Linked DNA regions of Homo sapiens: all the other regions are linked to region 2. The links come from fine-mapping of genetic effects on gene expression. A gene starts in region 2. Each other region holds a variant in brackets. All regions are shown on one strand. Distances are from middle to middle.

Region 1 (4,117 bases), 110 kb before region 2:
TTTCTTCTATGATAGATTTATTGACCATTTATCATAAACTTTTTTTCTGTAAATTGCCTTTTTGAATTCTTTGCTAACTTTTATTGGAGTGTGTTTTTTTCCTTTAGTTTGCAGAAGCTTTATATTTTCTAGGTTATAATTTTGTAATTTACATTTTCGTTTTGTTCAAGGTTCCCTCCCCCACTGCCCACCCGCCCCCAGTGAAAAAGCAGTGATAGTTAAACTTGGCAGTCTTTTCTTTTTATGGTTTCTGTCTTTTTTTTTTTTTTTCTTTTTTCTTTTTTTGAGACAGAGTCTCACTCTGTTGCCCAGGCTGGAGTGCAGTGGCACGATCTCGGCTCACTGCAACCTCCACCTCTTGGGTTCAAGCAATTCTTCTGCCTCAGCCTCCCAAGTAGCTGGGACTACAGGCATGCACCACCACACCTGGCTAATTTTTCTATTTTTAGTAGAGACGGGGTTTCACCATATTGGCCAGGCTGGTCTCGAACACCTGACTTTATGATCGGCCCACCTCGGCCTCCCAAAGGGCTTGGTTTCTGTCTTTAAAGTCTTGTTTAGAAAGTCTTTCTCTACCTTGAGATTATAAAAATATTTAATTATATTTCTTCTAGTACTTTTTTGGACTTAAAAAAAATAAGTTGTTAATATAGCTGAATTTATTTGATGTGGGATTTGTAGTAGGGAATCATATTTCCCCCAAATGCCTAGCCGTTGTACTATCACTTATTGAGAAATATACTTTTCCTACTGAATTAAAATGTCACCTGTAATATAATAAATTAAAATATATTAATGACTGGATCTCTTTCTGGCCTCTCCTGTTTTGTGACCAGTGCCAGGGTATTCTTATTTCTATTTTAGCATTTAAGTGAGATATAGTGTATTTAAATACCTAAATGATCTTTGTGTAAATAAGATTTTAAAGGTTTAAAATGAAGCATAGTGTAGATTTATTAGTTTAGTTCTACCCATATCTCCTTACTGAGTTTACTCCCTTCTTATGCTTAAGACAAGCATTTCCATTTCAAAGCAACAAAAATAAAATACGGAAGCCCACATAAGCAGGAATAGTGCTTACCTCTTAGGCTTTACTGCTTTTTGATTATTGTCTTCATCCTGTGCCCTATCCTTGACTATAATTAAACTCCGATAGCCAATTATTAAAGTATTTTTTTGTTTTCTTACTGGTACAGTTCATTATAAAAAGCAAAGCTTGCTATTCCCTATCTAGGAGCCATCAGTTTTCTTGTGCTGTTAGGGAAGGATGAAAAAGGAGGGATGGCTGGGCACGGTGGCGCAGGCCTGTAATCCCAGCACTTTGGACGGCTGAGGCGGGCAGATCACGAGGTCAGGAGATCGAGACTGTCCTGGCTAACACGGTGAAACCCCGTCTCTACTAAAAATACAAAAAAAAAAAAATTAGCCAGGCGTGGTGGCGGGCACCTGTAGTCCCAGCTACTCCGGAGGCTGAGGCAGGAGAATGGTGTGAACCCGGGAGGCAGAGCTTGCAGTGAGCCGAGATTGTGCCACTGCACTCCAGCCTGGGCGACAAAGCGAGACTCCGTATCAAAAAAAAGAAAAAGAAAAAGGAGGGGTGATATTTTTGTTAACAACTGATATGTAAAAGGAGTAGAAACAGGAAAGAGTTCTTAGAGGTAAACATGTTGCCGATACCAAAAATGGACAAAGAAAAAATATAAAAACTGGAAAAGTTGAAATCCTTTAGTATGTTTTGCAAAAAGATAGGTGGAAACTGAGGGTAAAAAAAAGTAAGTTATGAAATTGAGGTATAAGCATTTTATTTAGAATGATTGAGTGTAACCACTAAAAATAAACATAAATGTTTAAAAGTAGTCACTTGTCACTGCAACACTGGGTATGATGGAAGACTTGTTTCTTTTTATATTCTTTAGCACAGTTTTTTGTGTGTTTTTATTATATAGTTAATATATAAAAAATTAGTCTTCTCAATGCATAAAATCTCAGCATTTAATACTTTTTTTTTGTCATTGTAACAGACTTAAAAATTTTTTTGTAATGGTTCAATCCATTGCTGAAAAAAAGATGGGTAACATTATTGGACACTGTTATGCATAGCTCTCTATGAAGGTTCTATCATTTAAACCTTCAACCTTATATGATAAGGAGGCTTCATTCTCCATTTTAGAAATGAGCTAATTGAGTGCTTAGTGACTTGTTCTCCAAGGTCATAAAGATACTAAGTGAGTTGTAGGGGACTGCCAAGTCCTCATGCTTTTTCTGCCT[T/TGTAAG]GTACAATTTCTGAAATTTTAATTCTGCCTCCTTGTTGTAGACCCCAGTGGCCTTTACTTTTATCACCTGCTTATCCTTTGGTTTGTCAAAAAATACTGCTGGCTGTGCAGAGGTACTGTGCCTAGCTGTTGTGGGTAGTACCAAGGGAAAGAATAAAACTTGTCATTTCTGTTTTCTTAGCCCACTTAATATACCTATAAATTAACAATATAAAGAAAAAAAATCAATAAAATTGATACTTGTAGCCAGACTGAGGAATAAAGAGAACATACTAATTACCATTATTAGGAATGAAAGGTGACTTCAGTACAGACATTGAAAGGATGATATGGCAATATTATGAACAACTTTATGTCAGTAAATGGAGAACTCAGATGAAATGGAAAAACTCTTTAAAAGACACAAGCTACAAAACTCACTCAAGAAGAAATAGGTGACTGCTTGCCTTATACTTATTAGAGAATTGAACTTGTAGTGGAAAACCCTGCAATAATAATTCTGGTCTGAGTTGCTTCACTGTTGAATTCTATAAAACATTAAAGACTAAATCCCATTTGATACAGTCTTCCATAAAATGGTGTCATCTTATGAAACCAGCATTACCCTGATATTCAATCCATAAGAAGACTTTACAAGAAAACTGTAGACTGATAACCCTTATGAACATAGATGTAAAATTTCTAAATAAAAGTTTAGCAACTCAAATCCAACAGTATATTTAAAGAATACTGCATCATGACTAAGTGGGGTGTATCCTAGAAGTGTGGGATTTGTTTAACATTTGAAAAATCAATCAGTATACTTTGCCATTACAGTGGACTTAAAAAAAGACCAGTCTGGGTGACAGAGTGAGACCCTGTCTCAAAAAAAAAAAAAAAATTAATGTTCTAAATTATGGTGACATCATATGTTGTAATTAGTAAATATGTCCATATGTATAAAATACATATTAAGGATAGAAATTTGATTTAGATATGAATATTTATGTAATTTGCCATATAACAGATTAAATGAGATCATTTATGATATTAGTGAATGTGGTTAAATTGATAAAAATTCAACATTTATCATCTCAAGATATATATCTATCTCACTATATATAGATAGATATCTTGATATATGTAGTGTATATGTAGTGTGTGTGTGTGTGTATATATATATATATATATACATATATATATACATGTATAGTATTATTTAGTTAGGTTCTTAAGAAGTTTAAAACACCAATTTGTGAGGATAAATTCCATTCGTCAGGGCAAACACAGATCGCAGGTAGCCCTGGAGCTGAGGAATAGCTTTGATTTTTCGTACAATTTGTGAGTCCACAGCTTTCTGATCAATCTTGCACTGCTCTGTAGTCTTGTAGTTCTCTTTTTCTGTGTCAGAGATCTCACCTTCCTGGTGTCTGGGCTTCTGCAACTGCTTCTCGAAGTGAGCATCAATAAGATGTTTTGGGATTTTTACATTGCTAATGCCAGTTTTGGTTGAGATGGCAATGACAAATTTCTGGTGTGTTCAAGCTCCACCTGATTAAGAGATATTTTTGAAAGATTGACAAAATTCATTTCTGGTAAAAATTCTCAGCACACTAGGAATAGCAAGGAATTTTCTCAACTGGATAAAATAATCTTTGAAAAATATTACAATTGACATATTAATGATAAAAGACTTATTGTTCTCTCCCAAAGACTGGGAATGAGGAAGAATGCCCATTTTTACCACTTCTGTTTAACGTTATGTACAGGAGGTCCTAGCCAGTGCAGTAAGGGCATGATAAAGAGAGAGGTATCCAGATTGGAAAGGAAGAAGTAAAAATTGGCTTTATTCATGGATAGGAAAATCCTA
Region 2 (4,117 bases):
CAGTGCCCGTCAGCCAACTGTGGGCCTTCACCTCTACCTGCACTTCCCCTCTCACACCAGCTGCACTCCCGTGGCTGCCAGAGCAGGGTGGTTTTCCCCAATACCTGGAGCTCAGAAAGGCAGAGCCATCTGGCCCTCCAGGGTGTCCCCAGCCATCAGGAGACTTGAGTTGGTATTTGGACCTGAGCCCGCACATTCCACTCCCATTCTCCCTCCAAGAGGGGCCCAGCATTGTATTTCCCTGTGACCCCTTACTCTCCTGGCCAGAACTTGAGCCAGCTGTGGGATGTTGCTGCAGGACAGTAAGCCCTCACCTGGGCAAACATGAAGCTCTGGCCTCCTTTCCTCAGCCCCTTGTTCTTCCCTGTCCTCCACCCTGGACCCCAGCCGGCTGCTGGAGCCCAGAGGCCACCTTCTCCCTGCATCCTGAATGATGCTTAGTCAGAAGCCTGTGTTGGAACATCCCTCGTTTACGGGGCGCTGGCCTACCTCCTGAGGACCTCAGCCACAGATGAGATCACACGCATGCACGTGCACACATGTACACACACACACCTACCTGCACAGCACGCTGTTGAGTGTTGGTTGCTAGAGTATCTGGCTGGCTGCTGTGTGCCTGGTTTCCTCACATCCTGCCTCAGCTTCACCACCCTGGCTTATGTGGAACACCTATCAGGGAGCAGAAAAGGGGTGCAGTACACTAAGTGAACCCAGATTCTGGATTCTTGGTGTCCACAGCCTAGCTGATACGAGATAGCCCATAGGACACCTGGTTTAGGTAGAAGGAGCCTCCTCAAAGGCAGTGCTGGGCACCCACGGGTGTGCTGGATACTGGAGTTTGAGAGGAGGGAGGTGCTGGGGCCAAAGGAGACACTAGAAAAGTGGTAGATGGGACAGGTAAGTGGCAGAGGTGAGGGGATAAGTTAGAATGTAAAAGGGCAGTAATTAGGGGTGAGGGAAAGGAGATAGGGGACCCTAGGAGGTAGAGTGGGACCATGTCGTGAGGCAGTTGAAGAGTTGAGGAAAGGTTTTTCTGGGCCCTACTGCTCCCCTCTGCTGCAGGTAAGTCAGAGCAGCTTTACCACAGCTTCAGGCCACGAGAGCCCCTTCACCCGCCCTGCTGCGCCATAGGCAGAGGCTTATAAAGAAATGGGTTCTGGGCCAGGTGTGGTGGCTCAAGCCTGTAATCCCAGCACTTTGGGAGGCCGAGGCGGGTGGATCACCTGAGGTTAGGAGTTCGAGATCAGCCTGGCCAACATGGTGAAACCCTGTCTACTAAAAATAAAAAAATTAGCTGGGCGTGGTGGTGGGCGCCTGTAATCCCAGCTACTCGGGAGGTTTAGGCAGGAGAATCGCTTGAACCCTGGAGGTGGAGGTGGAGGTTGCAGTGAGCCGAGATCGCGCCATTGCACTCCAACCTAGGTGACAAAGCTACACGCCATCTCAAAAAAAAAAAAGAAAAAGGGTTACAAAAGGTTCCCAGCTCCGGGGCATCAGCCTGAGTGCGCTTGAGCTGCTCCAAACCTGGCCCTTCCCCACTCCTCTAGCATCGCCACCCGCATGGCCCTGGAACTCCCGCGGCGGCGGGGGCGGGCCCGTGCCTGCTGTGCCCCGACTTCCCACACCAGCCGCGCCCACCGCAGGTGGGACTCAGGTTCGCCCTCTGGGCCAGGTCCTTCACGAGGAGGGAGCTACCCTTCGCCAGAAGTTTGTGAGAATGTGGCCGCCCTTTTCCTGCCCTCTGCCCCATGTGGGTGGGGGGCCTCGTGGCCCGGCCGGCGCCCCGTCCCCTTCTGCATGTCTGAGGCCACCGGCAACCGCCGCCCCACTCCAGATTTGCCCCCGCCTTGTTTTGAAAGCCCCTTATTTATAACTTTTATACTTTGTGCAGGTCGCGGCGCTTCCTGCCTCATCCTCGGCTGCATGGGGCGGGGGCGCTGTTTTTAACGTGCCCGTTTGTACTGATGTATGAACTTGTCAATAAACACAATTGTTTGTTAACCCTGGGATGCCGGCCAGTGGGGCAGGCCGAAGCGGGCGCTGCCAGTCGCTCCACCGCTTCGGTGGCAGAACCCGGTGTGTGTCCAGGGGCAGGACGGGGCGGGGTGCTGGGGGTGTGGCCTGCGGCGGGTGCCTCTGGAAGGGCGGGGCGAGGGTCTGGGGGTGTGGCCTGCGGCGGGGACTCTGGGGAGGGCGGGGCGAGTGCTTGGGGTGTGGCCTGCGGCGGGGCGTCGGGGAAAGGCGGGGTCTCGGCCGGCGCTGACGCAGCCATGGCGGAGGCGGCTTTGGAAGCCGTGCGGAGCGAGTTACGAGAATTCCCGGCCGCTGCAAGGGGTGAGTGGCTCTCCCACAGGCTGCGGCGATTTCCGAACACGGGAGGGGCCCTGGGATGCCGCTGACACCGGGGGCTCGGAACCTCGTGTGTGCGACTGCCCTGAGGCCCCGCTCGGGTTGCTCTTCTGTGGCAACCTGCTTCCCTTCTCCCGTGTTCGCGCGCTCCCGCGGCTTCCTGGGTGATTCTGTTCACGTTGTTCCCAAGGCCCGGTGCCGTCTTGACCGTGGTCGCGGCGAAGCCCTGTGTTTCCTACAGTCTTGAGCAGCTTGCTGTTACCCTTGTTGAAAGCTCATCGAAGGCACACAGCTGGTGGTCGGATTCCTCCCCCACGCGCCCCACCTCCGACCTCAACTCCCTTGTCGCACTTTGGGAGGATTGCAGGCTGACCAAATGGTCCCTGGCTCTTCCCCTGCTTGGTTTTTATTCCTTTTCTTTCTTTCTCTCTTCCCTCCTTCCTTCTTTTTTCTATTTTTAAATGATTTCTTACCACTGAACAGCAACACAGGCTCATGTGTATGTGATGGGTATGTAATATACAGTGGTACGCAATGTAAATGAAGCAAGGTTTCCTCCCAGCCCCAGTTTGCATTCTTACAGAAAGATTGTTTATATCCGTGCACACACGACTTTTTACCCTTTTTTTGTACAAATAGTAGCCTGCTAAACACACTCTTCTGCACCGTGTATCTTGGAGATCATTTCACATTCCTCTACCTCAGTCTTTTTCACGTCTGTGTGCTAGTGCTGTATTCACTTAGTCATTTAGGTCATGTCCAATCCGTTGTTTTCAATAATGCTGCAACGAATACTTTGAGGATTGATTTAACAAATACTTATTCAGCATCTCTGTGTGCCAGGCTCTGTTCAGTGTGTTTGAGATACATCACTGAACAAAACAAATCTGTCTTTTACAGTCTATGTCCTGTTACATTCTAAGTGAGAACGTGGACAATCAACCACAGGTGTACTGAATGAGTACATTGTAGAGTAGAAGAAGTAGGTTAGAAGGTAAGTGCAGGCAAAGCCCTCTTTGGGAGTATGCCTGATGTGTTTAGGAAACAGTGAAGAAGCCAGTCTGCAGGAGCAGCGTCTTCTGCGCATGTGTGAGTATGTTTGTTGGTTAAATACTTTATATTTTTTGAGACAGGGTCTTACTCTGTCACACAGGCTGGAGTGCAGTGGCACGATCATAGCTCGCTGCACCTCGACCTCCCAGGTTCAAGAGATCCTCCTGCTTCAGCACCTGGGAGTAGCTGAGACTACAGGCATGCGCCACCACGCCTGGCTAATTTTTTTGAATTTTAGTAGAGACAAGGCTGGTCTCAGATTCCTCAAACAATCCTTCCACCTCAGCATTCCAAAGTTTTGGAACGCCATGGAACACATAAGCCACTGCTCCCGGCCTTGTTAAATTCTTAGCAGAGTTATGGGGTCAAAGCAATTGTTTGGATCCCTTTTGAAATTTTCTCACTTGGAAGCCCCAGGAGAGGAAAGCAGCCATTCTCTAAAGGAAATGGTGAGCAAGTAAAACAAATCCCTAATTGCAGAAGTCCAAAGGGTGAAAAAATGGCAGTTTCCATGTATTTTCAGAATCCCAGGCTGTGTGCAGTACTCACGCCTGTAATCCTAGCACTTCAGGAGACCAAGGTGGGAGGCATCTCTTGAGGCCAGGAGTTCAAGACCAGCGTGGGCAACATAGTGAGACACCATCGTGTGGTGGCATGTGCCTGTAGTCCCACCTCCTGAGGCAAGAGGATTGTTTGAGTCCAGCAGTTTTGATGA
Region 3 (4,117 bases), 35 kb before region 2:
AGGTATTTATAACTTGAATTGAGTGGGATTGAGAAGTGGGGGAAGGGAAAAGGGGGAAGAAAGTAGCTGGTGGCAACAAAACATAGCAACAAAAACAGATCTTTTTCCTCACAGTTGCTGGGGTTTCTTTACCAGTATGAGGTCAGCCAAATCCTAGGGGACCCTGGCCTTTTGTGACTCTGGCCTCTTAGTTCTCTATCTCAAGGGAGCAGCCACTCCCGTGCCATTGCAGACTTCCTGTAGTGGTCCCTCACACTAAAAGGGAAAGCATTTCCTGCCAACTTCTGTTGTGGGTCCAAGCAGGAAGCCCTTCCTAACAGTGCCACTGTCTTGGCTCCACCTGGACTCGCTTCCATTGGCTAGTGCCTGTCCTCTAGCTCGTGAACTGATCAGATCCAGGGACTTGAGAGAGCAGAAAAGCTTCGAAGGCCCTGCCCAGTGTCTAGGATTGTATGTTTAGGGCTCTGGGACCGCTTGGGATCTTATGCTGTGCCACCTCTGTTGAGGATGGCTCTGGACTCTGGAGAGTTCTGTCCTTGCCTCCTTCATTTCTTTCAGCACTCACTATTAATCACCCCTCCCTTCTGGGAGCTCTCCACTTCACTGGCTTCCTGGTTCTCCTCCTCTCTTTCTCACTGCCTGTACCTCATCTTCTCCATGCTCTAAAAATAGGTGTTGTCTGAGGTTGGGAGTTTGAGACCAGCCTGACCAACATGGAGAAACCCCGTCTCTACTAAAAATATAAAATTAGCCAGGTGTGGTGGCGCATGCCTGTAATCCCAGCTACTTGGGAGGCTGAGGCAGTAGAATCACTTGAACCCGGGAGGTGGAGGTTGCTGTCAGCCGAGATCGTGCCATTGCAGTCTAGCCTGGGTAACAAGAGTAAAACTCCATCTCAAAAAAAAAAAAGACTGCAATCTGCAGGCTGGAAACTACTGTTCTATCTAGTATGAATGAGCAGTCCTGTCTCTTGCCTCTACGCCACCTGTTTTTTCCATCTACTTTAATGAGAGCCAGAAGAGCACTTAAACACGTGGCTTTATTCTTTCTTTCTCTCCTGGGAATAGGCTAGTATGAAGTTACCCCTTTATCTTATTAAAGTGAGAGATGATTTTGCTGGCCCTCTTTCTCTCTGGAGGATATGATAGTGCTCTGCCTAGTTCCTACTGGGAGTGGTGGGTATTCAAGCCCTCCCTCACATTATACTTGTAGTAATTCTGCCTCCAGTAGCCTTGCTTCAGGGGAAAGATGACACCTCTGTCAGGTTGGTATACGCTTTCTTCCATCTCAACACTGTCCACCTGCCAAAGCAAAAGCTGGGTCACAGTTTGGGTATTCTCCATGCTTCAAGGCTGCATTCTGGGTGTGGAGGAGCTCACTGTAGAGAACCAAGTGGGTCCTCTCTTCTTCCTTCTGAGTTTCCACTTGTGCATGAAGCAGTGTTCCTAGAGCTGTAGATGGATGGGTCAGGGTGCCAGCTGCCTGCAGCAGTTGTGTCCCAAGTCACTGCCCAGACACAGTTGCCTGGACTGGTGTGTCTCCTGGGCTGTATTTCATCGGCATTTGGGCCTTGAAGGTTTGGAGCTGAAGTTCCTGTCAGAACTTTGGGCTGAATCCCAGACTTTATGGACAGTAATTTTCTCGCAGGGCCTCTTTCCTA[A/C]CTCACTTTCTTCAAGCGATCCTTGAGGCCAGAACTCTCACTTGTGGGCTTGCTTCCTCATGTGGAAAGATGCTGTAGTATTTAGAGGGGTGGGTCATTGGTTCTCAGAGTGTGGTCTGAGAAGCCTGGAGTCCCCAAAACCCCTTTAGGGGGTCCATGATGTCCTGTTTCCAACTACATATCCAAATGAGGCTAGGTTTTCTTCGCATACTTCCACTAGATAATGTCAGGACAGATTGAATGCAGATGCAGATATGAGAACCCAGCTCCCTTCTGTTAAGCCAGATATGAAAAAGGTTTGCAAAAATGTAAAACAGTGCCATTCTTCTCACTAATTATTTTTGTTTTGGAAAATAAAGTTATATTTAATAAGAACGCTAATATGTGGGCTGGGTGCAGTCGCTCACGCCTGTAATCCCAGCACTTTGGGAGGCCGAGATGGGTGGATCATGAGGTCAGGAGATCGAGACCATACTGGCTAACACGGTGAAACCCCGTCTCTACTAAAAATACAAAAAATTAGCCGGACGTGGTGGCATGTGCCTGTAGTACCAGCTACTCGGGAGGCTGAGGCAGGAGAATAGTGTGAGCTTGCAGTGAGGCAAGATTGTGCCACTGCACTCCAGTCTGGGTAACACAGTGAGACTCCGTCTCAAAAAAATAAATAAAAATAAAAAAAGAATGTTAATATGTAATGGGTTTATTGTTATTTCTAAATGATTTAGTAAATATTTTTAATGTTTCAGATTGTGATTTCAAATATAGTAAATATTGATAGACATAACCCGCATAAACAGAAGCTCTCTGTTGTCCTTGATAAGCTCTAAGACTGTGAAGAGTTCCCAAGACCAAAAGGTCTGAGAATCTCTGGGCTAGGTCCTGCTTGATAACAAACCACCTCAAAAATCCCCCTGGCTTAAGCAACAGTTTATTTCTTGCTCATGCTACATATTCAGTGAAGGTCAGCATGGGGACCCAGGTCAAGGGGCCCATCTCATCGCCTGCTGCCGTGCTTAGCAGTCAGAAAGAGGGGTACTCACGATGGTGGTTCTGTGACATGTCAAAGAATTATACAAATATGTAGCTGCATAAGGACAGACATGAGAAACTTAAATACAAACACAGATATTTGGCCGGGCGCGGTGGCTCACTCCTGTAATCAGCACTTTGGGAGGCCAAGGTGGGTGGATTGCTTGAGGTCAGGAGTTTAAGACCAGCCTGGGCAACATGGTGAAACCTCATCTCCCCACTAAAAATACAAAAATTAGCCAGACACGATGGTGGGTGCCTGTAATCCTAGCTACTCGGGAGGCTGAGGCAGCAGAATCGCTTGAACCCTGGAGGCAGAGATTGCAGTGAGCTGAGATCACCCCACTGCACTCCAGCCTGGGTGACAGAGCAAGACTTGTCTCAAAACAGCAACAACAACAAACCAGATGTTTGAGTTCTTCATACTCTTTCCCTCCACATTGCCAGATCAGTGAGTGTCAACCAAATGCCTTGAGGCTAGAGAGAGAAGTGGGGATGTGAGTTATAGAAGGATGTTGCTCATAAGGTCCTGAGCCCCACACCACATCTTCCACTATATTTTTTCTCTCTTTTTAATATTTGCTATGCAATATTTAAGACATACAATAAAGACGTGGAATAATAGGCAATGTGTGCCTACCATCAGCTTAAGAAACAAAATGTTACCTGTACCATTAAGTGCCCTTTCTGCTTGTCCTCGGTCGGTCATAGCCTTTCTGTCACAACCAGTTTTAGATACTTTGTGGAGAACAACTTTATTGGTCTGAAATACCCCAGTTTTCCTGGGCTTTCACTGTTTCTGAAGCCTCTGTAAGGCATTCATTTATTCCTTAAATATGTATCAAGTGCCCATTGTATGCCAGAGACTGTTTAAAGTGCTGGGAATACATCCATGGGGGACAGCAACCTAGGTCCTGTCCTCAAAGAGCTCACATTCTGATGGGACAGACAGGCAGTAGTAAGTACATGGACAGAGATGTAATCAATGTTGGGTTGTTACCTGCCTCTGAGCTATGAAGAAAAGTAAGGCTGGGTGGCCGGGCGTGATGGCTCATGCCTGTGATCCCAGCACTTTGGGAGGCCGAGGCGGGCAGATCACTTGAGGTCAGGGGTTCAAGACCAGCCTGGTCAATATGGTGAAACCCTGTCTCTACCAAAAATACAAAAATTAGCCGGGCATGATGGTGGGCACCTGTAATCTCAGCTGCCTGGGAGGCTGAGGCAGGATAATTGCTTTAACCTGGGAGGCAGAGGTTGCAGTGAGCCGAGATCATACCACTGCACTCCAGCCTGGGTGACAAGTGAAACCCTGTCTCAAAAAAAAAAAAAAAAAAGAAAAAGAAAAAAGAAAAACTAAGGCTGGGTAAATTGGGTATAAGATTATGGCAGTAAAGCTAGTCTGGAAGGCCCTCTCTGAGGAAGAGACCT

Direction of the effects. Positions count from the first base shown, and alleles are read on the strand shown. Sizes are in standard deviations (SD) of each study's normalised expression.
With allele TGTAAG in place of T in region 1, the expression in coronary artery of the gene that starts at base 2,238 in region 2 is lower (small effect, 0.21 SD a copy in GTEx).
For the expression in monocytes of the gene that starts at base 2,238 in region 2, A is the high allele of the variant in region 3 and C is the other (moderate effect, 0.68 SD a copy in CEDAR).

What was found. PIP is the estimated chance that this variant, and not a neighbour inherited with it, causes the effect. A credible set is the group of variants that fine-mapping cannot tell apart.
Region 1: its variant is the best candidate, but not a certain one, in a credible set for the expression of JMJD7-PLA2G4B in coronary artery (GTEx, PIP 0.67).
Region 3: its variant is the best candidate, but not a certain one, in a credible set for the expression of JMJD7-PLA2G4B in monocytes (CEDAR, PIP 0.51).

Annotation. Positions count from the first base shown.
Region 1 is chr15:41,714,883-41,718,999 of GRCh38, forward strand. The region is part of intron 9 of MGA (MAX dimerization protein MGA); the gene reads left to right. Among named protein-coding and RNA genes, the nearest start is that of MIR626, 25 kb to the left of the region's middle. The variant T/TGTAAG (reference allele first, on the strand shown) is at 2,269.
Region 2 is chr15:41,825,855-41,829,971 of GRCh38, forward strand. JMJD7-PLA2G4B (JMJD7-PLA2G4B readthrough) reads left to right here and starts at 2,238. Exons shown (of 25, transcript NM_005090.4): 1 at 2,238-2,334. The coding sequence starts at 2,271. It overlaps MAPKBP1 (mitogen-activated protein kinase binding protein 1), which reads left to right. Exons shown (of 31, transcript NM_014994.3): 31 at 1-2,001. It overlaps JMJD7 (jumonji domain containing 7), which reads left to right and starts at 2,238. Exons shown (of 8, transcript NM_001114632.2): 1 at 2,238-2,334. The coding sequence starts at 2,271. RefSeq lists enhancers at 1-790, 1,836-2,065, 2,097-2,391 and a silencer at 2,126-2,215.
Region 3 is chr15:41,791,159-41,795,275 of GRCh38, forward strand. All of the region lies in intron 2 of MAPKBP1 (mitogen-activated protein kinase binding protein 1), which reads left to right. Among named protein-coding and RNA genes, the nearest start is that of MAPKBP1, 19 kb to the left of the region's middle. The variant A/C (reference allele first, on the strand shown) is at 1,661.